Linked DNA regions of Homo sapiens. The protein of the gene in region 7 purifies or fractionates together with the protein of the main gene of each other region. This does not show direct contact. Each region holds a gene or a part of one and is shown on either strand. Other genes may lie near its edges.

Region 1 (3,500 bases), on a different chromosome or scaffold from region 7:
ACCTGTAATCCCAGCTGCTCAGGAGGCTGAGGCAGGAGAATCACTTCAACCCGGGAGGCAGGTTGCAGTGAGCCGAGATCGCGCCACTGCACTCCAGCCTGGGTGACAGAGTGAGACTCCGTCTCAAAAAAAAAAAAAAAAAAGGTAATTGTCCTTGGGCTTCTTCTATCAATGTGTCCTCACATATTGATATCTGATTCCCTAATGCAGCACCGTGTCATTAATGGAGGGTAAGGCAGACAATTATTATTCAGCTGTGCTGTTTAATAATATTCAACATACATCCCAAGTGGCGCAGGGTGCCTTGGCAGGCGGAGCCCCTGACAAAATGCTCCCATGTATGTCCCGTGCTCGACAGTGCTGTGTGCCTGTGAGTTTGTGCTGAAGTATGATAAACACGTTGGGTGAAAGTGACCCCTTTCAACCTCTAGCGAAACACGACCCTTTCAACCTCTCGGGAAACGCTGGGCCATAGGAGAATGGCTTGATTCCTCATTGCACTGTGAGGCTGAGTCTAGGCAGACGTTCCCATTACTAGGGACTCAAGGTGAGGACTTTCCCACAATTCACTGCTTTTATCCAGTGCTGGAACTGCCCTGTCTTCTGACCAGTGGATGCTGAGGAACTGACATTCACTGTCATTTTTCCCGTTTTATATAATTTAAGGATCACTTCCCATTTAGTGAAGTTTATCTCATTTTTAAAAGATTCTCCCTTTCTCCCCTAGGGCTACCAGGGCATGGTGGACGGAGGCTCAAACATCGCAGAGGCCGACTGGGAGAGTGTCTCCAGCATCCTGCAAGTGGTAGGTACTGGGCTGCGTCCACAGGGTTCTCTGAGTTAGAGACTCTTTTATGTCTAGTAAATTCCCAGAACACTTGAGCTCAGATCAGTTGCGAAATAGAGATTATGTGGACAGAACAGACTTTGTGAGCAGCTCTTTACTTGTGGTTTGATTTTTAGAAATGCATGTGTTAATCTGTGAGTCACTTTGAGTACTTGTTAATAGAAATAATCCAAATCGGTGCCTCCCCGCTGAAGACGCTCATGGGGCCCACACCTTCGTGCTGGTCCAGGCTCTCTCTGCATTGGGCGCCTCCTGAGCTCCGACACATCAGAAGAGAGGTGGAGGGAATTTTGACAACCACGGAAGTTAGGTGGAGCAACGTTTGCAAAACATCAGGAGAGTGTGGGCTGAATTCACACAGGGGAGCGTTTCCATTCTGCGGTCGTGATTGACGGAGGAAGATAAGATGTGAACGGAGAGTTGAAGTGCGTATGTGTATCAGTGAGTCTGTGTTTCTGTGTGTGGTGTATGTGGTGTGTGAATCTCGGTGTGTGTGTAACTGTGTGAGTCTGGTGTGTGTCTGTATGTAGGTGTGTGAGTCTGAGTGTGTATGTGTGGTGTGCCCGTGTGTATGTGTTAACTGTGTGAATTTCTGGCTAGCGAATGTGTATCTGTGTGTGGGGTGTGTGTATATGTGGTGTCCTTGTATGTGTAGGTGTGTGGTGTGTGTGTGTGTGTGTGTGTGTGTGTGAAAGAGAGTGAGTGAGAGAATGGGAATGGCACCCACTCCTCTGCAGCCCAGTTATCCTGGTTTCGTTCCTGAGTTGCGGCCACCTCGTCTCTTTGGTTGGAGTTTCTGGGTTGCTGGCTCTAGCTCCCATTGTGCTGGCTCTCGTGCTGCCCCCCAGGTTTTTGTCCAGGCAGAGTCCAGAGAGCACCCCTGCCCTGCTCTGCGCCCCCACCCTCACTTGCCTTGGGGGTTGGGTTGTAAATGGTCTCGGTCACACTTGGTGCCAGTGACGTAGGATCGTGTGGAGTGAATTTCAGTTTTTGTAACCTTTTCATAATGTTTTGATAAATTAAATGGTGGTAGGTTTCATGTAAAAATAGGAGCTTTTCTGGGATTTGGAATATTAGTGAGTCTCTGTGTGTGAAAATGAGCTGTGTGCGTGCACCATTGGTGTATCGAAACACGCACTCACGTCACTGCAGGGGTCTCCTGGGAGCTGCCTGCAGACCGAAGGCAGGGAGAGCTTCGCCTCCAGTGCAGAGACAACCCCTGCTGTGCTTATGAGCACCTTGCTTGACAAAGTCAGCACGCGCTTAGGGATCCCGTACGGATGGAGTTTTTTGGTGCATTCATGGTTTTATTTAAAGAAATCTTGCATTTGTGGATCCCACCAACAATTCTTAGTTTTTGGAAAACCAAGTGTGACGAATCATGATCTATGTCCCCTGGAAGTTTGGATGAAAGAATTTAAGATCCTGAAGATATAGCTCTTTAAAAGGGGCAGCGAGTATGTGGTGCAAAAAAAAAAAAAAAAAAAATCCCCCTGGCCCCAGGTTCCTGCTGGTTTTACTTGCAGGTGCTGTAAGGGGTGACTGGAGGGAGAAGCCTGGCTGCTGGTCACACCGCTTCCCTTGTCCTGGCCGGCATGCTCTGGTGGTCAGTGGGCTTGTCTTTGGTTCCACGTGCACCTGGTTGAGCTCGTTGGCCGGTGCTGAGGCGGCTGCTGTGACACCGCAGGCTGGTTCCTGCTCCATGTATTTAACTGCTGGCTGCCGTGTGTCTGGCTCTGCACCCTCCCTGGCTCCTCCTGGGTGTCACGCGCCTGTCTTTGTCCATGGAATGCTGGTCTGGGACTAAAAACAGGAAAATCACAGTCTTTCATAGCTAGTTACTAACTCACAAGATGAAAATGAGAAAAATGTAAATTCTAGCACCCCATGTTTATAGTCGGCCTGTGTGTGCCATCCACCTGGCGCTCTCTCAGACTGAGAGGAGATAAATTAGCTGGTGTCTTTCCCAGGGCGGGACGATCATTGGCAGTGCGCGGTGCCAGGCCTTCCGCACGCGGGAAGGCCGCCTGAAGGCTGCTTGCAACCTGCTGCAGCGCGGCATCACCAACCTGTGTGTGATCGGCGGGGACGGGAGCCTCACCGGGGCCAACCTCTTCCGGAAGGAGTGGAGTGGGCTGCTGGAGGAGCTGGCCAGGAACGGTGAGTGGACACCTGCTCCTCTGTCCTGCGGGTTTTCGCCCTGTTTCAGAGCTTTGGAACCGACAGGTTTCCCTCTTCACTGTGGCAGAAGTACCTCTTCTCACAGATCTTACAGGTCACCATCTCAGGACTTTTTAGGATCTCAAAAAACAACAGCAATGATCGTAAGAATGCTAGTAATTTAACCTTACCATGTGCCAGGCACCCTTCGACCTTTCACACAGATAGCTTTATGGAATCCTCACGACAGCCATCTAAGCCAGGTTTTAGATCATCCCATTTACAGATGAGGAATCAAACGGCCACTCAGCCGTGGGGCGAGCCGGGTCCCCAGCAGCCTGGGACACTAGCATCCGCCTTTCAGCCCTCACACTGTGTCCCTCCAGCTCGCTGGGGTCCTTTAAAACTGAAGTTGGGCCGGGCGCGGTGGCTCACGCCTGTAATCCCAGCACTTTGGGAGGCCGAGGCGGGCGGATCACGAGGTCAGGAGATC
Region 2 (3,500 bases), on a different chromosome or scaffold from region 7:
ACCTGCTTGGCAGCCGCAGCCCCATCCATTTCCGCCTCCACCAGCTTGGACATGAGGCACTCCTTCTCCTGTTGTAGGTGTTTCTTCTGAAGTCTGGGGCCAGAAAGACGGCTCTGTGAGCCCTCCCAGGCCCCCGCATGCCCAGAGATCCAAGGCTTGCCTCACAATGCCCTAGGGGGCTCACCTCTGGTCAGGGAAAAGTAGGGGAGGGGGCAGGGACAGCCCTTCTGGCCTGGGTGGCCTTCAGAAAGGACCAGGGCCAGAAGTTACATCTGCCTGGGCACCAGACCAGGGCCTCCACACCAGGAGACATTAGCTACCTGTGGCCCTGTTTCTCTCAAACAGCCACCATTGTCATCTCTGCACTGCCCCCCTCCACTGTCACGCCCTCCTACGCACCATCTTCAGATACGATTTTGAGCCCTTCTACCTCTTCTCTACACTGCAGCCAAGGCTAGTCAGGCCACCTCCCTGCTTTTAAAACTTCCATGGCTGTAGGCTGGATACAGTGGCTAAAGCCTGTAATCCCAGCACTTTGGGAAGCCGAGGTGGGCAGATCACTTGAGATCAGGTGTTATCGAGAGCAGCCTGGCCAACAGCTAAAACCCCATCTCTACTAAAAATACAAAAGTTAGCCGGGCATGGTAGTGGGCACCTGTAATTCCAGTTACTTGGGAGGCTGAGGCAGGAGGATTACTTTAGTCAAGGAGGCGGACATTGCAGTGAGCCAGGATCACGCCACTGCACTCCAGCCTGGATGACAGAGCGAGACTCCATCTCAAAAATTTTGAGATGCCTCCCAGGATCAAGCAGTTCTCCTGCCTCAGCCTCCAGAGTAGCTAGGATTATAGGCGCCCGCCGCGACGCCCGGCTTAATTTTTGTATTTTTAGTAGAGACAGGGTTTCACCATGTTGGCCAGGCTGGTCTCGAACTCCTGACCTTGTGATTTGCCCGCCTTGGCTCCCAAAGGGCTGGGATTACAGGCGTGAGCCACCACGCCCGGCCAAATAAATTAATTAAATAAAATAAATCCTTTCCATGGCTTCCAAATGCCCTCAATGCAAATGCCTCAAAGTGGCTGCTGAGAGCCAGCCCCCTGCCAACCTATGTGGCCCCCTTATCCTCTGCCCACCCACTCTGGCCTGCCTTCCATTTCTCAGCTACAAACACTTTCCCACCTTGGGGCCTTCGCATAAGATGTTCCCACTGAGTAGCGTGCTTTCTTCCCTAGCACCCACCTGCCGAATGCTTAACCATCCTGCAGGACACCCCTTAAATATCACTTGTTCCAGAAACAGTTCCCTGCTACCCAGTCCCACACCACAATCCACGGGGTCCTCCCTTTCCCTCATAGTACAAATCATAAGCACAACCAGGTAATTAACTGTAATTAATTGTGTGACTGTTGAACAGGCTCCAGGGCACAGGCACAGTGCCTGTGCCCACCTCCTACGTTGCTTTCCATTATTGCCCAGGGCTCAAGGCAGCCTGGTAGGGAGGAATAGATCAGCGGGGACAGAGCAGGAGCCACCTTACATGGTGAAGTCCTTCTCCTCCTTCATGCGCTCGATGTTGTGCCTCAACACCGTGTTCTCGTGCTCAGTCTCAGCCAGTTCGTGGGCCACCTCCTCCAGCTCTTCCTTCCGTTCCTCCAGGAACCTTTTGGCCATCTGGCGCTCACCTTTTTGCATCTTGACCTGAGCAGGGGGACCCAGGCAGGGGCCACTGAAGGGAGGTCCTTCCTCTATGCCACATTGCTAGGCTCAATGCTTTGGACCAAAATAAGGCCCCGGCCGGGCGTGGTGGCTCACGCCTGTAATCCCAGCACTTTGGGAGGCCAAGGTGGGTAGGTCACTTTTGGTCAGGAGTTCGAGACCAGCCTGACCAACATGGTGAAACCCCATCTCTACTGAAAATACAAAAATTAGCCAGATGTGGTGGCACATGCCTGTGATCCCAGCTACTCTGGAAGCTGAAGCAAGAGAGTCGCCTGAACCCAGGAGCCAGAGGTTGCAGTGAGCCGAGATCGTGCCCACTGCACTCCAGCCTGGGCGGACAAGAGTGAGACTCCATCTCAAAAAAAAAAAAACAAAAACAAAAAAATAAGGAGCCTTCCAATTGAGAACTACACAGGCTGCATGCCAGGGCCTTATGGGTGCAATCTCAGTTAACTGCCATGAAGACTGACTCTCCTGGGAGATGCTGATTTTCTTTTTGTAGATGAGGAAACTCAGTACAGAGAGCCCCAGTGACTTGTGGGTTGGGAACGAAGCCAGGTTGCAAACCGTGGTTTGGCTGGCACACCATAGGAGGAGAGATGTCACAAAAAGGCTCTTGCACTTTGAGTTATAGGGGAAGAAGGGCTTTTTTTTTTTTTCTTTTGAAACAGGGTCTCACTCTGTCATCCAGGCTGGAGTGCAGCGGTACGATCTCAGCTCACTGCAACCTCTGCCTCCTGGGTTCAAGTGATTCTTCTGCCTCAGCCTCCCAAGTAGCCGGGATTACAGGCGTGTGCCTGGCAAATTTTTGTATTTTTAGTAGAGATGGGGTTTCACCATGTTGGCCAGGCTGGTCTTGAACTCCTGACCTCAAGTGATCTGCCCTCCTCAGTCTCCCAAAGTGCTAGGATTATAGGCATGAGCCACCACGCCTGGCCAAGAAGGGCCTATTCTAGGCAGCCAGCCCTAGGTTCTCCAGGAGGTTCCCTGGACCTCGAGTACAGGGTGGAGGATTAAAGACACAGGTCGTGTTAGCAGTGAAGACATAGGCTGACATAGCAATCCAAGTCTAAGGCCTGGATTTTAATGACAACTCTGCCAATTTCCTAGTTGGGGACCTTGGACTTCCAGGTTCTATTTCCAATTCCATTGTCACATCCCACCCCAAGAGAGAGCACGGCAACTGAGGACAAACTTCCTTGGCCTCTTTGGGGCTTTGTTTTTGTTAATTTTTTTATTTATATATATATATATATATATATATATATTTTTTTTTTTTTTTTTTTTTTTTTTTTTTTTTTTTGAGACAGAGACTCTCTCTGTCGCCCAGGCTACAGTGCAATGGCACAATCTCAGCTCACTGCAACCTCTGGCTCCTGGGTTCAAGCAATTCTACCACCTCAGCCTCCTGAGCAGCTGAGACTACAGGTGCACGCCACCACGCATGGCTAATTTTTGTTTTTTAGTAGAGACAGGGTTTCACCGTGTTGGTCAGGCTGGTCTCGAACTCCTGACCTCAGGGGATCCGCCTCCCAAAGTGCTGGGATTACAGGCGTGAGCCACCATGCCCGGCCTGTTTTTGTTAAACCTTATATAAAGCGGAAGGCATAGGCCCTAGTTTCCTAGGTATTTCATCTCTGTAATGAGGACAGTAACACCACTGGCTTCACATGCTGTTGTAAAAATTCAAATTGGACCACCCATGTGGAGCACCAGGACAGCTACATGCTCAATAGAGAGGGCCCTTGTTGGTGGGATGGGATCCCATGCTGCCCCAGCTA
Region 3 (3,500 bases), on a different chromosome or scaffold from region 7:
CTCTGTCTCAAAAAAAAAAAAAAAAAAAAAATATATATATATATACATATATGTATGTATGTATGTATGTATGTAGTGGGGTTAGTCTACCTCACTTCCCTTGGAATAGTCAGTCCTTCAGGCACAAGGATACTTCTGAGGCTGGCCTTCTACCATCTTTTGCCACTAGGGAAGGAAGTTTTTAATGCAGAAATTCTTAACCTCAAGTCTAAGGATCCCCAAGGCATCCATAAAGAGAATTCAGAGTCCATGAATTTGGACAGGGAAAAAAATACAAATTTCTTTTCACCAATCTCCTATTAAAATACAGCATTTCTTTTCATTATGAACACAGGAAATAAATTGTAGCAGTATTATAGGACCTGGGACTTTGTGAACAATAGAAATGAAAAAAAAAAACCTTTCTATTATGCTAGTTTGCAGATATCTCAAAATATCATTTATGCTCATCATTACTTTACAATCATCATAGATATTAGACACATTATATAATGTGTTAATAAAGAAGCATATATATTACTATATCACACATTTTGTTTTAAAAATCTTTTGGGCTGGGTGCAATGGCTCACGCCTGTAATCCCAGCACTTTGGGAGGCTGAAGCGGGCAGGTCACGGGGTCAGGAGTTCAAGACCAGCCTGACTAACATGTAACATGACCAATCAGTAAGTTATTAGGAAGGCAGAGCCCTTTGTATTAGTCCATTCTCATATTGCTATAAAGAACTACCTGAGACTAGATACTTTATAAAGAAAAGAAGTTTAATTGGCTCACAGTTCCACAGGCTGTACAGGAGGTATGGCTGGGGAGGCCTCGGGAAACTTACAATCATGGTTTCATGGTTTCAGATTTGTCACATACCAAGAATTGTTGCTTTCTGTGGCACAGTCTACCCTGAATATAGCAGGCCAAACACAACCCTGTCCCAAAAATAGAGTGTGACTAACCAGTTTCTGGTACTAGGTGAGTCTCTAGACTACCTAGGTTAGTTGCAGTGTGCTGCAGTGGGGCTTACTGGTGTCATGGTCAAAGGAGTTTCCCAAGCACTGTCTATCATCAAAGGAGAAATAAGTTGAACTAAAGAGTAAGGAAAAGGTGGCCTGTAGGTCTAAGATCAGGAAATTACAATCAGTAAGTTATTAGGAAGGCAGAGCCCTTTCTATTAGTTCATTCTCATATTGCTATAAAGAACTACCTGAGACTAGATACTTTATAAAGAAAAGAGGTTTAATTGGGTCACAGTTCCACAGGCTGTACAGGAGGTATGGCTGGGGAGGCCTCGGGAAACTTACAATCACGGCAAAAGGTGAAGGGGAAGCCCAAACATTCTACATGGCTGGAGTAGGAAGGGGAGAGAGCAAAGAAGGAAGTGCTATACACTTTCAAACAACCAGATCTCATGAGAACAGCAAGACGAAATCCACCCCCATGATCCAGTCACCTCCCACCAGGCTTCTCCTCCAAGACTGAAGATCACAATTCAACATGAGATTTGGGTGGGGACACAGAGCCAAACCATATCACCCTTCAAGTCTCTATTACTTATGAGGTTTAATAAGGTCCTCTATTATGTCAAGCCTCTATTACTTATGTAGTTTAATGAGGTCCTGGAAAGGACCTCATAAGTAACATAGAGGAGAGAACTATCCAATCTCAAAACATTATCAGTATGACCTATAGTCCTGGATACTGAGGACTGATCAAGTCACTTAAAAAAATATATATACAATGGATATATTTTGTAAAGCCGGAAGACCAAAGTGCTATGTTCCAGTGGAATGATCAAATCACTTTTATTTTATTTTTCTTCAAATAGAGACAAAGTCTCACTATGTTGTCCAGGCTGGTCTCAAACTCCTGGACTCAAGTCTCAGCCTCCCAAAGTCTTGGGATTACAGGCATGAGCCACTGCGCCTGGCCAAAATATTTTTTATTTTATTTTATTTTTTGAGACAGTCTCTCACTCTGTTGCCCAGGCTGGAGTGCAGTGGCACGATCTTGGCTCACTGCAACCTCCACCTCCTGGGTTCAAGCGATTCTCCTGCCTCAGCCTCCTGGGTAACTGGGATTACAGACATGCGCCACCATGCCCGGCTAATTTTTGTATTTTTAATAGAGACGGGGTTTCACCATGTTGGCCAGGCTGGTCTCGAACTGCTGACCTCAGGCAATCCACCTACCTCAGCCTCCCAAAGTGCTGGGATTACAGGTGTTAGCCACCATGCCCAGCCTATTTATTTTTTTGAGAGTTTCCCTCTTGTCGCCCAGGCTGGAGTGCAGTGGCACAATCTCAACTCACTGCAACCTCTACCTCCCAGGTTCAAGCTATTCTCCTGCCTCAGCTTCCAGAGTAGCTGGGATTGCAAGCGCCCAACATCACGCCCAGCTAATTTTTGTATTTTTAGTAGAGACGGGGTTTTGCCATGTTGGCCAGGCTTGTCTTGAACTCCTGACCTTAGGTGATCCACCCACCTCAGCCTCCCAAAATGCTGGGATTACAGGCGTCAGCCACCACACCCGGCCCACCTTTATTTTTAAAATTAAATTAGGTTTGGTGTTTTGGATTTTTTTTTTAAAGCTTGACTCCACAGAGATAATCACTATTGACATTTTATTTGAATTATTATTACCATTTTTTTTTTTTGAGATAGAGTCTTGCTCTGTTGCCCAGTCTGGAGTGCTGTGACATGATCTTGGCTCACTGCAACCTCCGCCTCCCGGGTTCTAGCGATTCTTGTGCCTCAGCCTCCTGAGCAATTGGGATTACAGGCACCTGCCACCACACCTGGCTAATTTTTGTATTTTTAGTAGAGATGGGGTTTCATCATGTTGGCCAGGCTGATCTCAAACTCCTGACCTCAAGTGATCCACCCGCCTTGGCCTCCCAAAGTGCTGGGATTACAGCCATGAGGTACCGTGCCCAGCCTTTATGTGAATTATTCTTTAAATACAATATAAATCCTACTAAGGGTAGAAAAGCTACAATGGAAGGTCTTGCATCTTTCACATATCATATCCTTGCCACTATCAAACTAGGTAAGGAGAAAAGTAAAATATAAAATAAAAACAGCTAAAAAAGTATTACTGGTAAATTCTGCCAAACATGTAATGAAGTTTAACACCAACACTACACAAACACTTCCAGAAAAGAGAAAAGGACAGTACACTTCCCATCTCATATTAAACAAAGATATAACAAGAAAACTACAGACTGAAATCCTTCATGAACACAGATGCAAAGATTTTAAACAAAAATTTAGTGAATTCAGTTCAACAATATATAAAAAGAATACGCTACGACCAAATGGAGTTTATCCCAGGAATGCAAGATTAGTTTAACATTTACAAAAATCAATGTAATCCACCCTATTAACAGACTGAAAATGAAAAGACACGATCAGCTCAGTAGATACAGAATGAAATAACGATGTTGAGTGGAAAAAAGGTATACCAAAACAAGAGTATATACAATATGATTTCATTTATATAAAATTCTACA
Region 4 (3,500 bases), on a different chromosome or scaffold from region 7:
AAGAAAGAAAGAAAGAATAAGACTAAAAAAGAAGAAGCAACAAGATTGCAGCAATTCAGTTACATCTTCAGGCTTCACTTTTTTTTTTTTTTTTTTGAGACAGGGTCTCACTGTGTTGTCCAGGCTGAAGTAGAGTGACACAATCATAGCCCACTGTAGCCTTGAATTTTGGGCTCAGGCGAACCTGATGAGATGATTCCATTGGGGTTCTTTGAGTTACAAGTAACAGAAACATCTAGACAAACTCAAAGCAATAAAGTAGAATGTCATAGAACCTAAGGGCACAAAATACAGCCCCAAGTTCCTGGTATCTTACCTCTCATTGTCCAGGGCCCATTTGTTTTTTCCCTCTTTGCATACCAGTTTTCTCTAGTCAGTATTTCCTAGTTTTGCACGTGGCCCCAACGTGCTTGCTTCTTCCAGTCCCTTACAAGCTCACCCTGTTCAGGGGTTCATGGTGCCTCACTAAAATGATTGTGTCCCAGTTCTGAAGTCCCTGGAAAGTCTAGTTAACACAACCTAGCTGATAAATACAGCAGCCCTGTTTGAATCAGCTTTGGCCAATGAGAAACAAACTCACATATTTGGAGAAGATGGACATTGAGGGTAGATGCCTTAAAATGTATCTGTTATGGCTGGGTGCAGTGGCTCACACCTGTCATCCCAGCACTTTGGGAGGCCACGGCCAGCGGATCATGAGGTCAGGAGTTCGATACCAGCCTGACCAATATGGTGAAACCCCGTCTCTACTAAAAATATGAAATTTAGCTGGGTATGGTGGCACGCACCTGTAGTCCCAGCTACTTGGGAGGCTGAAGAATCGCTTGAACCCAGGAGGCAGAGGTTGCAGTGAGCCGAGATCGTGCCACTGCACTCCAGCCTGGGTGACAGAGCAAGACTCCATCTCAAAAAAAAAAAAAAAAAAATGTGTCTGTTACAATTGGCCAGGCGTGGTGGCCAGCACTTTGGGAGGCTGAGGTGGGCAGATCACTTGAGGTCAGGAGTTCAAGACCAGCCTGGCCAACATGGTGAAACCCTGTCTCTACTTTAAAAAACACAAAAACTAGGCCGGGTGCAGTGGTTCATGCCTGTAATCCCAGCACTTTGGGAGGCTAAGACGGGCAGATCATCTGAGGTCAAGAGTTCCAGACCAGCCTGGCCAATATGGTGAAACTCCATCTCTACTAAATACAAAAATTAGCCAGGTATGGTGGTAGGTGCCTGTAGTCCCAGCTACTCGGGAGGCTGAGGCAGGAGAATCGCTTGAACCTGGGAGGCAGAGGTTGTAGTGAGCCAAGATCACGCCATTGCACTCCAGCCTGGGCTACAAGAGCGAAACTCTATCTCAAAAAAAAAAAAAATACAAAAACTAGCAGGACGTGGTGGCATGCACCTGTAATCCCAGCTACTGGGGAGGCTGAGGCAGGAGAATTGCTTGAACCTGGGAAAGCAGAGGTTGCAGTGAGCTGAGATCGCACCACTCCAGCCTGGGCAACAGAACAAGACTCTGTCTCAAAAAAAAAAAAAAAAAAGGGTCTGTCACAATTATGTATAATGCTGTTAGGGCAGATTAGGAATTGGTAGTGCCATGCTTTTAGAATTATTCATGCAGTTAAAGACCAAATGAATATTGAAGCCTATCTTTACTTCAGTTTTTGATAACAAAGTAAATTTTCTACATCTACAGAAATAGATTTTCCTGAAGAATTCTATGGTTTGTGTAATATTTTCTAGTTGGGAGTTGTTTTGAATCGTGTACTTTGTTGTTTGTTTTGAGACAGGGTCTCAGTCACTCAGGCTGGAGTGCAGTGGTACAATCAAGCTGACTGCAGCCTTGATCTCCTGGGCTCAAGTGATTCTCCCACCTCCTGTGTAACTGGGACTACGGGCACATGCCACCACACCTGGCTAATTTTTTTTTTTTTTTGAGATGGAGTCTAGCTCTGTCGCCCAGGCTGGAGTGCAGTGGCGTGATCTCGGCTCGCTGCAACCTCCGCCTCCCAGGTTCAAGCGATTCTCCTGCCTCAGCCTCCAGAGTAGCTGGGATTACAGGCGGGTGCCACTGCACCCAGCTAATTTTTTGTATTTTTAGTAGAGACGGGGTTTCACCATGTTGGCCAGGCTGGTTTTGAACTCCTGACCTCAGGTAATCCGCCCACCTCGACCTCCCAAAGTGCTAGGATTACAGGCCTGCACCTGGCATTTTTTTATTTTTTGTAGAGATGAAGTCTCACTATGTTGCCTAGCTGGTCTCAAACTCCTGGGCTCAAGTGATCCTCCTGCCTCAGCCTCCCAGGGTGCTGGGATTCTAGGCGTGATCCACTGTGCCTAGCAGATCGTGCTTTTGGTTTGTTTGTTTGTTTGTTTGTTTGTTTGTTTTTGTTTTTGAGACGGAGTCTCCCTCTGTTGCCCAGGCTGGAGTGCAGTGGTGCGATCTCGGCTCACTGCAAGCTCCGCCTCCCGGGTTCACGCCATTCTCCTGCCTCAGCCTCCCGAGTAGCTGGGACTACAGGCACCTGCCACCACACCCGGCTAATTTTTTGTATTTTTAGTGGAGACGGGGTTTCACCATGTTAGCTAGGATGGTCTCCATCTCCTGACCTCATGATCTGCGCGCCTCGGCCTCCCAAAGTGCTAGGATTACAGGCGTGAGCCACTGCGTGCTTATTTAAAGTATGTGCTGTCTCTCTCCTTATGAATGTTTTTTTTTTTCCCTGTTGGTCACTCATTTTCATGATCGTTTTCCAATTCTTAGATCTGACTTCATGCATGAGAAGTACAGAAAGTACACAAGAATAAAGAATAAAAGTAGGGGAGTCAGGAATGTTCTATTTTAAACGCAACTATTAGATTCCTCACTGTCTCCCTTCAATTATTCCTGATCTTTACTCTTTGAGTCCTCCCTGAAATAACATGCTATTAGATTGATGCAAAAGTAATTGTCGTTTTTGCCATTACTTTTTTTTTTTTCTTTTCTTTTTTTAGACGGAGTTTCACTCTTATTGCCCAGGCTGGAGTGCAATGGTACAATCTCGGCTCACTACAACCTCTGCCTCCTGGGTTCAAGCGATTCTCCTGCCTCAGCCTCCCGAGTAGCTGGGATTATAGGCATGCGCCACCACACCCAGCTAATTTTGTATTTTTAGTAGAGATGGGGTTTCTCCATGTTGGTCAGGCTGCTCTCGAACTCCTGATCTCAGGTGGTCCTCCCGCCTTGGCCTCCCAAAGTGCTGGGATTACAGGCATGAGCCACCACATCCTTGCCATTACTTTCAATAGCAAAAACCACAATTACTTTTTCACCAATCTATATAATGATTAGAAATATATCCCCTACTCTGGAGGGTGAGGCAAGTGATCCTATCGCGTGAACCCAACAGTTTGAGGCCAGCCTGGGCAACATGGGGAGATTTTGCCTCAAGAAAAAAAAGAAAAAAGAAATAGATCCCTCTTCGTGAAGTAGCAACAGTTACATTTAAAATTTAAAACAAGATAATCTT
Region 5 (3,500 bases), on a different chromosome or scaffold from region 7:
AGGAATTTCTGTTGGTGTTGTGCATTGCTATATCACCAGCACCAATAACAGTTTCTAGCATATACTAGGCTTACAAAACATATTTGTTGAATGTTTAAAAACGGAATTTTTATGCAGCTGTGAGATCTAAATATGATGTAAAGTATTTTTTAAAATGAAAATAAATAACGCATTTTATTTTTAAATAGTTATAGTTTTACATGTCCTATTAAACTTCTAGAAGTTTAAAAAAAGCAGAGAAAATGTAGGACAAACAGAAAGAACAAAGTAAAAAGGCAGAAACAAGCCCAGATATACATACAGACTATATAAGATAGACCTAGAAACAGAATAAATTAAGCGATTAAAAAACAGGTATTGTCAGACTACATTAAAAAAGCAAAATTTAGATATATGTGGTTTTAAATAAACCCAACTAAAACATGACACTGAAAGGCTGCCAGAATGGAAAAAGATAAATCAAGAAAATGTTAACTAAAACGGAGCCAGGGCAGCATTATTATTATACTGTCAGACAAAACAGACTTGATTAGCATCAGTACAGTAAATTGCTATGCATGTAAAATACATATACATAATCATATACACATAATCATGATCATAGCTAAGGAAGGTCACAAATGATGATAAAAGATTCAATTTACCAGGAATGATTAACAATTCTAAACTTGTACACACTGAATAAAATACCCTCAAAATGAAAAATGCAAAGTTTCCACATTTACTGGGACCTTACCAACTACATTTTTTAGACACCTTGCTGGAAAAGAAGCCAGCAGCAGATAGGCAGTGCCACCTCAGCATAGGCATCAGTTTCATGGGGCTTCTTCTCCAAGCTCCCAGATCCTGGCAATCCCAATCTTTATCCTTTTTGTTCTCTGGATGTAAAGGAGGTATCTGTTTCCTTTGGACTACACCTCAGTATTTTCTTTGTCCTCCAACTCCTGGGTAACCAATTCTCTATATTGAATCCCCTCTCTTCTTATTTAAATACATTTTATTGTGTATATTTAAGGTATACAACATGTTATGGGATACATACCGATAATAAAAAGGTTACTATAGTCAAGTGCAAATCCATCATCTCACATAGCTAACCCATTTTTTTGTAGCAAAAGCAGCTAAAATCTACTCAGCATGAATGCCATATACGGTATTTTATTACCTGTAATCTTCATGTTGTACATCAGATCTCTAGACTTACTCATCTTACATATCTGCTACTTTGTATCCTCCAAACTACATCTTTTGAAATACCTTGTATGGAGTTTTCTAGACAGGACCCTGAATAACACATATCACAATATGAACAAAATGCTCTCAATTAGATCAATTAGACCAAAAAAAGTAGTAAAGATATAAAAGATTTGAACAGTATGTTAGCATGCCTAATTTGATGAAATATATCAAATCTTGTACTCAACAACAGAAAGGAGGTGGGACTATGGGTATTTTTTCCTTAGCTTCAATTTTTGCTTTTTCACATCGTACATGCACTATTTTTATCACAGAGGAGGAAATAGAAGCCATTTTATTCTTTTGATAAGAGTAAACCAAAGGACCTACAATCATTAAAACTGGCAGTGATGAGAAGCTATCTAAACTGAAACAAGCTGTTAGAAGCATGGAGGGCTACCGCTTTAAACAACTTCATCATTGCTCATGTAATAGCTTAATTCTCTCCTATCCGTTAACAACTTTTCCTGATACAATTTATCTTTTCCAGTGGGTACAAAGTTTAAATTATTTTAAAAGGCATGGTGACAAGTTGTCCATAAAGAAATATACACAAAGAAACTTATTTTGATAGCTTTTTCCTCTAAAAATACTTGGAAATCTTTTAGGAGTTATGATCTCCTAAACTATAATCCAATGCTAATTAAGTGTCTTATCCTCAGAGTACACATCTTTAGTATTTGAAGGTTTCAGAACTTTTTACGTGTTGTGTAATTTACTCAAACTTTTTGAAGTAAAAGCTCAGTAGAAAGTAAAAATCAGTTACCTGTAAGAATGAAATAAATCTCCCCATTTGAATTTGGCAATCACCTTCCACCATGCTGGCATCTGTAGCTGTAAAAGGCAACATGAATAAGCATATTTCATTTTTTAAATTTAAACTCAATCAATACCAAAAAAGGGGGAAAAGTTTTTTTTTTTCATTAGGACATCTTTTACTCTGCATAGTATTGAAAACAGAATTTTTACACCAAAGAGAAAAATCAGACAATCATTAATCAAATAATTAGAAGTATTTGCTTCACTATTTAATGAATTCAAGGAAAATTCTCATCTACCTACAGTACTTCGTAAAGTACAAAGATATCACAAATTTGCTGCTGCTTCCTCAGCTTTTTTACCTGTTTACCAAACATACCAACAAAAAATATGAATACTTATTTTTCTCACACTATTATATAATCATAGTAGTCCTAAAATTGTCTGTTAACTTTTTGTTCATTTCAATATCAAAAAGGCATCACAATTTGGAATTTTAAACTTACCTCCTTCTCCATAAAACAAGAGACCATTGTAAAATTTAGTTTCAGCCTGTTTTTAAGAAAAAAATTAAAATAATTTTAAAGGTTGTTTTGTTTCCAAATTCCTATGCTCTCTTAGATCTGTATACTTAGTAATAAACAGAGGGCTACATCATTTGCATACAAATTCATTTAAATTCAAAATCTGTTTATAAAGCAATTCATCTTTAGAGTAACAAAAATATTACTGATACTCAAAGCTGTATCTTGATTCCTTTAGCCTTTACTTCATCTTATCTGACCACCCTCACTGTCCCACATCCTCCCATTAGTTTATGGGAAATAAAGAGCAACCACATGGTATCAAAAAGCAGGAGAAGAAAATACGAAGTTTGTCAACTTCTACCAGACTTTTAATGGTTCTTGGGTAAGGAAACACAAAACTAAATGCATTTTAAGAAAAAAAAATCAGTTTTCTCTAGATAGCCAGTATATATGGCAGGTAACACAAACTCTGGAGGTTTGTAAACCTAGATTCAAACTGTTGACTACCAGTAAGATGTTATGCAAGTGACACTCTCTTTAAGCTTCAGTTTCCTCATCAATGTCTCACCTACCTCCTGGGGTTACTATAAGGATTACAGTGTTAGCCTGGTGTTTTGTACATACTAAGTACTCAATGAATGGTAGTCCGTATTAGTATTACGTTAAATAAATAATTCATTCAACATTCAATAAATATTTATTGCACACTGTACATATATAAACACATACTTGCTTCTAAATGATGTTTTTAAAGTTTTAAGACAAGAATTCAAATAATTACCTCATATTTTAATTTCTTGATTTCACAACAAAGTGCAGCATAAACAGTGATGACTTTGTTTAAGACCTAGTTTCATGAGTAAAAACAAAATAAAAAGTAAATTGTTACAGATAACTAAAACATTTTTAAAACAATTTTTTAGATTTAGGATTCTGTACCTTGTTTTCAGTCTTTATGAGTTCCAAAAGAGAGGACTG
Region 6 (3,488 bases), on a different chromosome or scaffold from region 7:
TCACCACGGAGAAAACTAGGCCCCAGAGAGACTGAGCCTCTCACTCCAGGCCTCACAGCCACAGGAAGCAGGCTGGGGGCTAAACCAGGATGGCAGCTCAAGACCACGTGTGGCGCATCCAGGTAACCTTCCAGGGCAGGTGAGGGGGGCCATGCCCAGCCCAGCCCGGCCCACCCCGCTGCCCCACATACCCCTGGTCTTATCCATCTCCATGCGCCGCAGCTGGTGCTCCCAGGTGCCCAGCTCGCTGTCCACCTCCTCATCACTGTCATAGCCGTGCTGGTGCTGTTGGACTGCCTTCTCCCACAGCAGCTGCATGTCCTGCATGGCCCGCTTGTGCTGCATGATCATGTCGTACATCTGCTGCATCTGCAGGGCACACTCGCCAGTGAGCCAGGGCACGGTGCTGTGGCCTGCCGGAGCCCCGCTCCTGCTCCCCGCCTCCAGTGCTGGGCATCCCCCGCCGGAACGTGGCTCATCTGGACCCCTGGGCAGGACTGGAGCAAGGACTCTAGCAAGTACTGAGTACTGCCCTGGGTTCTCTAAATCCCAGTGTGGAGCACGGAGGACCTCTTGGCCACTGAATGAGGGTGACTCAGGGTCCTGACCCCTGGGAGGGTCAAGGGTGATGTGACGGGGCTGCGGGCCTGGAGGAGGGGTCACAGCGAGCTGACCCCAGGGACTGACAGGCAAGCGCCTGCAGCTCCTCAGGGGAGCCAACACCGACACTGCCCAACTACAACTGGGAGGCCTCAAGTCCCTCAGGGTGCCCTGTGCTGACCAGGATGGTCCTGCACTAGACACGACAGAGGACTGCGGACAAAGAACATCAACGTAGACTCTCCCATGGGAACCAGCCCTGGAGCGCGGCGAGAAGCAGCCACAAAGCTCAGGCCAGGATCACAGACCACCGGGGCCGCCCCAAGGGCCAGTGGTCTCCCAGGCAGGCTGAGAGGCCACTCAGGTGCAGTGGGGGGTGGCATGCCACCTACTGGGGCAGGGGGACCTGCCTGCCTGGAAGCCTCCCCGCTGGCCATGGGTTCCACCTGAACACAGGAGCTTGGCGAAGCACATGAACCCCTGTGACCGCTGCACCCGGGGGTAGAGGACAACACTCTATGGGCGCCGACCATGTCCCCGTCCCCTTGTCCCCGCAGTCTTACCTCCTGCTGCTCCTTCAGCTGCTTCTTCTGGGCGTCTGAAAGCTCTGTGACGCCCACTAGACCCACAGGCTTCCCCTTCTCATAGCCGAGCCCCTTGAGGTCCTGAACTGGAAACCAAAGACACAGGGTAGTCAGAGCCTGACAGGTGCACCCCGATCTCGCTCCTGCGCTGGGGTGTGCTGTGAGTCTCACACCTTCATGACACTCCAGGCACACGGGGACCTCATATCATTACTGTCAGTGCCACGTGGTACGTGACGGCCTCGGGGTCCCGCTGTGTGCTGCCACGTGCACCCCCGCATCTTACGTCCTTGTGACCTCTCCAGCCAGGCTCTACGCACCACCACATTGCAGATGTGGACACCAAGAATCAGAGGTTCCGGGACTCACTCAGGGTCACACAGCTAACGAGTGACAGGGCAGGAATTTGCAGAGCCAGAGACAAGAGAGCTGAGACGGCATGTGGGCAGCATGCATGGGCGCACGCACAAACGGGCTCTCAGAAGGCAGCTCCGTTGCTAACAGACACCAGGTGTAAGCGCGCACAGATTCAGAGTCTGGCGTAAGACTCAGCTGTGCGACTCCCTTAGCTCCTTCAGGGGAGGCAGCCAACCATCCTCAGAGCAGCTGACATTTAATTTGGCATCAGCTGTGGAACTTGGCAGGCTCCAGTAACACTGACACATAGAAAGATGCTGCAACAGCCCCATCCGGGTGGCAGAAACCACCACCCCTCGGGCGGTGCGGTGCTTCCCGGGGGAGAAGGTGAGCAAAGGGGTGCAGCGGGCCCTCTGGGAAGGGAAAAGATTTGGGTCCTTCCAGCTCATCAACACTCGGGCTTTGCCGCTAAGAATGGCCCACATTTGCACTCTTAGTCCTTCCTTGGTTTACAGGGCACTGAGGGATGTGGGGGAGCCCTGTTGGGGAGACGCAGGAGCCGAAGTCTGAGCATCTGGTTGATTGCCTTAGAGCATGCCCACAGTCCCTTTCCCCCAGGCCCACTCCACCACATGAGCGGGCGGGTGAGGGCTGCCATGCTCCCTGAGGACATGGATCAGTGGGACTTGAACCTGGGCCTCAGACTTTGGAGCCTGTTCTGTCCAACTAAGCCACAGGGCGACTTCTTCACCTGCTGGGTGTCTCAGAGCTGGGGTGTGTGCGCATTGAAGCACCCGGATCTAAGCACTAGGGTTCGGCACTTGAGTGACAAACCAATCCTAGGTACCCTCCACCCTGGCTGCAGTTGCTGGCTACAGCCCTGGTAAGCATAAGAATCTTCATTCAGTAGCTTTTCTCCTTGACCTAGAATCTCTGAGGCCCTTGGGGCCAGGGAGGCACCGAGAAAGCAATCATCCCTGAATTGGACGAGCAGGTCCAAGAGGCTGGCCACCCGACCTGGGAAGGCTGTCGCCTTCCCTTTTGGGGTCCTGTCCTCATCTTGCAAACACAGGTGATGGCGCCACACAACAGGGCACGTCGGACTCCTCCATGCACCTGTGTGTTGAGCGCCAGTGAAGGTGGAGTGAGGGGGTGATGTTTCTGCTCCACAGTGCAGGCTGCATAGCTGCATAGTGGGGCACCATATGACATGAGATAGTGGGTGTCAGTCACTGATTATCATCTGCAGAATGCAATGACAAGAGACCACCCCCCAACCCTTGTAGGTTTGGTAAGAAAATGAGAGACCAGGCCATAGGCTGGCCCTCCCCGAAATTGCTGCTAAGAAGGGAGAGGTGAAAAGGTGATTGTGTAAAACTGTGGTAATTATTGTGCTTATCGTTGTCTGTCTCTTGAACTTTCTTTCATTTTTCCCGAGATGGAGTCTTGCTCTGTCGCTCAGGCTGGAGTGCAGTGGTGCGATCTTGGCTCACTGCAACCTCCGCCTCCCAGGATCAAGCAATTCTCCTGCCTCAGCCTCCCAAGTAGCTGGGACTACAGGCACGTGGCACCACATCCAGCTAATTTTTGTATTTTTAGTAGAGACGGAGTTTCACCATATTAGTCAGGCTGGTCTTGAACTCCTGACCTCAGGCGATCTGCCCACCTTGGCCTCCCAAAGTGCTGGGATTACAGGCGTGAGCCACCACACCCAGCCTCCTGAACTTTCTGTGACAAGAAAGAATCCAAGTACTGGCCGGGAGTGGTGGCTCATGCCTGTAATCCCAGCACTTTGGGAGACTGAGGTGGGAGGATAGCTTGAGCCCAGGAGTTTGAGACTAGCCTAGGCAACATAGTAAGACCCCATCTCTATTTATGTTAAAAAAAAAAAAAAAGAGACTCAATTCAGACCCAAAGACACAAATACAGTCAGGAATCACTTCATGG
Region 7 (3,500 bases):
CTAAGAAAATATTTTGTAGTTTGATCAAAAATGGTTCTGGATAAATTGCCCAATCTTCCCATGCTCTGAAGCAAGTCATTACCCGTTGCTAAAGAAACAGGAAACAGACAACAAACTTTTATTTTGGGCTATATGTCTCAAATTTCAGTTCATGAGAATGATCATCAAGATTTGCTAAATTTGCCTTTAAACTGATGTTTTTTTAAACTTTAAAGAAAATAACTATATATCATTACCATATTTTTTAAAAAAATCAATGTCACCTTCTAATTAAAAGGAAAAAAACCCCTAAAAATAAATATAATGAAAAATAAACAGTAACTATTTGCTCTTTACCACCTAAGGTCAGCTCCCATACCATTAGTACTACCCATGAGCCACATTCCAGAAACACTTACATAGAAACTTACTAAAACTGGAAACCAAAGTAGCCAAGTTTTGACCTGAATCCCTTATGGTCCAATAAAGTACTTCCTAATTCTGGCTAATACTTTACTCTGTATCTTCCTGAAACTTGTCTTTAAATTCTAACTTATGGTCAAAATTTAAGGTCAAAAACTTTTAAAATGGGAGTTGTCTGAATGCCCTAAATGGTGGCGTCACTGGGCATCTTCCGAAACTAAAAATTTTTCTTAAAAAAGTCTTCTTCCCATGAAAGCATATTTACTTATTCAATTATAAGTGAAGTACTACACTTGGCTTTTCTTAACACTGGTCTAGAGCTTAAGAGGTTATAAAAAAATTGGTAACAGAATAGACTTTCTAAACATGATTAAAATGTATGTCTTTAATCCAGCCAAATAGTATATACCATTACAAAACAAGTGATTCTTCTGTATGTTTTATGAAAAAAGACTAACATTTATAATTTTTAAACAATATTTAAAACTAAAATTAAACCTGACAAAATAGTATCTTTTAAATTTTTGATTTGATAAAAACAAAAACGACAGAATTTTAAAACAGTAACTTCTGTAACATCTAAGTTTTAAATTTATGTCTCATACTTGTCTTATGCACTTTTCTAGCCCTTCAATGCCCTCCCCCCACCCATTTAAAACACTAGGGCAAAAATAGTAAAACAATAAACGTACCTTAAAGTTTTCAGATTGTAAATGGCCTTGAATTGTACGATAGGTGGCATTGAGGTCTGAAAATATCTGACATAACTTTGTTTCAAAACTGAAATTCAAATAACACATTCTTTAAAATAAAATGTTTAAAATTCCTTTCCCTTTTAGCATGCCAGCCAATGAAAACCCCTCCTGAACTTAAAATACTTACAAATCAAGAAATTATTAAAAATCAAAAACTAGGTGTTTAAACTCTAAAACCGTAACTGAATTGCTTGAACTCTTATTACTCTGAATTTTTCTCCTACAAACTCCCCAACAGTCCCTACTAGTTCCCTTTACGAGCAAGAAACGTTATATCTAGGATATGCTGAACCATCTCGTCCAATTTCTTTATTTTATAAAACAGAAAACTTAGAAAAGTGACTCGTCCAAGGCAAAAAAACTAATAGCAGACCTAAGAGTAGGATCCAGCTCTCTAAATTTCTTTTCAGAGCAACATCCTAGGGAAAAGCTTCCCTTTGCCTAATTCATAAAATAAACACAGAAAGAGAGCTCTGGGGAACAGAGGAAAAGTTATACTTTTTTTTTTTTGAGATGGAGTTTTGCTCGTCACCCAAGCTAGAGGACAATGGTGCCATCTCGGCTCACTGCAACCTCCGCCTCCCGGGTTCAAGCGATTCTCCTGCCTCAGCTTCCCGAGTAGCTGGGATTACAGAGGCACACCACCACGCCCAGCTAATCTTTGTATTTTTACTAGAGATGGGGTTTCACCACGTTGGCCAGGGTGGTCTCGAACTTCTGACCTCAGGTAATCAGCCCTTCTTGGCCTCCCAAAGTGCTGAGATTACAGGCGTGAGCCACTGTGCCCAGCTGAATTATACATTAATTATAATACAGCAACGTAACTTCCTTTTGCCTTAGGAAACATTTACAATGAACTAAAATCAATATGCTGAGGATCAGAAGAGAACACAGATTCTATAGTTAATAGTATGTCTTTGGTCTCTTATGTTTGCCAGTATATACACTGTTTCTATTTATTATATGAATAGCTAGATATGCAATAAAGTTCTCTTTAACACCTATTTGTTATACTGTCAATAGCTAAGAAAGTGATATGATATAAAATCTTTCCAAAAAATTGGTAATTTAGCTTAAGTGTAAGCCAATTTTTTAAAAAATTCTACAAACCATTAAGAAATTCAAATTAGTCTTCCCTCAGTATCCATGGGGGGACTGGTTCCAAGACCTCCCATGGACACCAAAATCCACAGATGCTCAAGTTCCTGATTGAAAATGGCATAATATTCACCTGTAACCTATCCTCATCCTCCCATCTGTTAAATCATCTCTAGGTTACTTACAATACCTAATACAATGTAAATGCTATGTAGAGTTTTCATACTATATTGTTTAGAAAATGACAAGGAAAAAAGTCTGTACAGGTTCGGTACAGATACAATTTTTCTTCTCAAATATTTTCAATTCATGGTTGGTTGAATTCATGGATAAGGAACCCACAGACATGGAGGGCTGACTGTACTTCTTATTCTTGCAGGATGTTAACAAAACAATCCTCTTTTCTGAACTCCTTACCCTTAAATACTTTATTTCAGGAATATCAGTTATATCATTATACTTACAATTTTCTATAATATGAAGCATTAGCAACTTTGGCTGAAGAGTTGTACAAAACATCAGAAACCAAATATAATCTGGCAATCTATAATATCAAAAGATAACACAAAATAGGTTAATATAAGGCTAATGTTTAGCTATAATTTAATTATGGCTACTAATTAGAAGAGTTATATGAAGCTCAGTATCACCACAACTATGACTCTGGCAGAGATGAAATTTGTTAACCCATTTACATTTCAACTTGTTTGTTAACTTGTATGTTAATGAACCTAAATTTCCAAGCAGAAATAACATAAGACTGCATGGGAAAAATCTCATCAGTCAAGTGCTTTGTGCAAAAAGGAAACCAATTCTAATCCCAAAAGACGTCAACTATCTCCCCTTTTCTTAAAATTCATTCCCATACCTTTTTAGGAAGGGGTGTCTTTAAGATGGACAACGACTCAGTAATGCAATCCACTATTTCTTCAGCAGCTTCAGCATTATTAAGACAGAAAACCATTGCATCTCCAATATCATTTTTCCTTGGAGTTAATCCCCGCAAGATTTCTTCCAATTTATCCCTCTGTCTGAACATAAATTGTTTTAACTTATAAATATTTAGATACAATTTCAAATGCCATTGTAGCTTTTGCTCACAAACTAATTTCTTTAAAACCTACTCACATAAAATAATTCTGAAGACTGTAATACATTCAGTCTGATTTGTGTTGTGTCCCCCAAAATTGTTACAATTTTTTGAAGAATTTATATAAGAATACTCTGTAGAATAAGATTCCAATT

The links.
Region 1: the proteins of U2SURP (region 7) and PFKP fractionate together in Homo sapiens (co-fractionation; one large-scale study listed by BioGRID). This does not show direct contact.
Region 2: the proteins of U2SURP (region 7) and ODF2 purify together in Homo sapiens (co-immunoprecipitation; one large-scale study listed by IntAct). This does not show direct contact.
Region 3: the proteins of U2SURP (region 7) and KIFBP fractionate together in Homo sapiens (co-fractionation; one large-scale study listed by BioGRID). This does not show direct contact.
Region 4: the proteins of U2SURP (region 7) and METTL2B purify together in Homo sapiens (pull-down; one large-scale study listed by IntAct). This does not show direct contact.
Region 5: the proteins of U2SURP (region 7) and WASHC4 fractionate together in Homo sapiens (co-fractionation; one large-scale study listed by BioGRID). This does not show direct contact.
Region 6: the proteins of U2SURP (region 7) and SUGP1 purify together in Homo sapiens (affinity purification with mass spectrometry; one large-scale study listed by BioGRID and IntAct). This does not show direct contact.

Annotation. Positions count from the first base shown.
Region 1 is NC_000010.11:3,098,548-3,102,047, forward strand, and holds part of PFKP (ATP-dependent 6-phosphofructokinase, platelet type), read left to right. Parts: intron 1-727; coding exon 728-805; intron 806-2,373; coding exon of another isoform or gene 2,374-2,453; intron 2,454-2,817; coding exon 2,818-3,007; intron 3,008-3,500. UniProt on the Homo sapiens protein: Catalyzes the phosphorylation of D-fructose 6-phosphate to fructose 1,6-bisphosphate by ATP, the first committing step of glycolysis.
Region 2 is NC_000009.12:128,469,506-128,473,005, reverse strand, and holds part of ODF2 (outer dense fiber protein 2), read right to left. Parts: intron 1,699-3,500; coding exon 1,538-1,698; intron 94-1,537; coding exon 1-93. UniProt on the Homo sapiens protein: Seems to be a major component of sperm tail outer dense fibers (ODF).
Region 3 is NC_000010.11:68,995,303-68,998,802, reverse strand, and holds part of KIFBP (KIF-binding protein), read right to left. Parts: intron 1-3,500. UniProt on the Homo sapiens protein: Activator of KIF1B plus-end-directed microtubule motor activity. Required for organization of axonal microtubules, and axonal outgrowth and maintenance during peripheral and central nervous system development.
Region 4 is NC_000007.14:128,490,248-128,493,747, forward strand, and holds part of METTL2B (tRNA N(3)-cytidine methyltransferase METTL2B), read left to right. Parts: intron 1-3,500. UniProt on the Homo sapiens protein: S-adenosyl-L-methionine-dependent methyltransferase that mediates N(3)-methylcytidine modification of residue 32 of the tRNA anticodon loop of tRNA(Thr)(UGU) and tRNA(Arg)(CCU).
Region 5 is NC_000012.12:105,114,231-105,117,730, reverse strand, and holds part of WASHC4 (WASH complex subunit 4), read right to left. Parts: coding exon 3,462-3,500; intron 3,370-3,461; coding exon 3,304-3,369; intron 2,548-3,303; coding exon 2,502-2,547; intron 2,071-2,501; coding exon 2,003-2,070; intron 1-2,002. UniProt on the Homo sapiens protein: Acts as a component of the WASH core complex that functions as a nucleation-promoting factor (NPF) at the surface of endosomes, where it recruits and activates the Arp2/3 complex to induce actin polymerization, playing a key role in the fission of tubules that serve as transport intermediates during endosome sorting.
Region 6 is NC_000019.10:19,279,022-19,282,509, forward strand, and holds part of SUGP1 (SURP and G-patch domain-containing protein 1), read right to left. Parts: intron 1,271-3,488; coding exon 1,164-1,270; intron 370-1,163; coding exon 192-369; intron 1-191.
Region 7 is NC_000003.12:143,032,570-143,036,069, reverse strand, and holds part of U2SURP (U2 snRNP-associated SURP motif-containing protein), read right to left. Parts: intron 3,287-3,500; coding exon 3,124-3,286; intron 2,800-3,123; coding exon 2,720-2,799; intron 1,183-2,719; coding exon 1,095-1,182; intron 89-1,094; coding exon 1-88.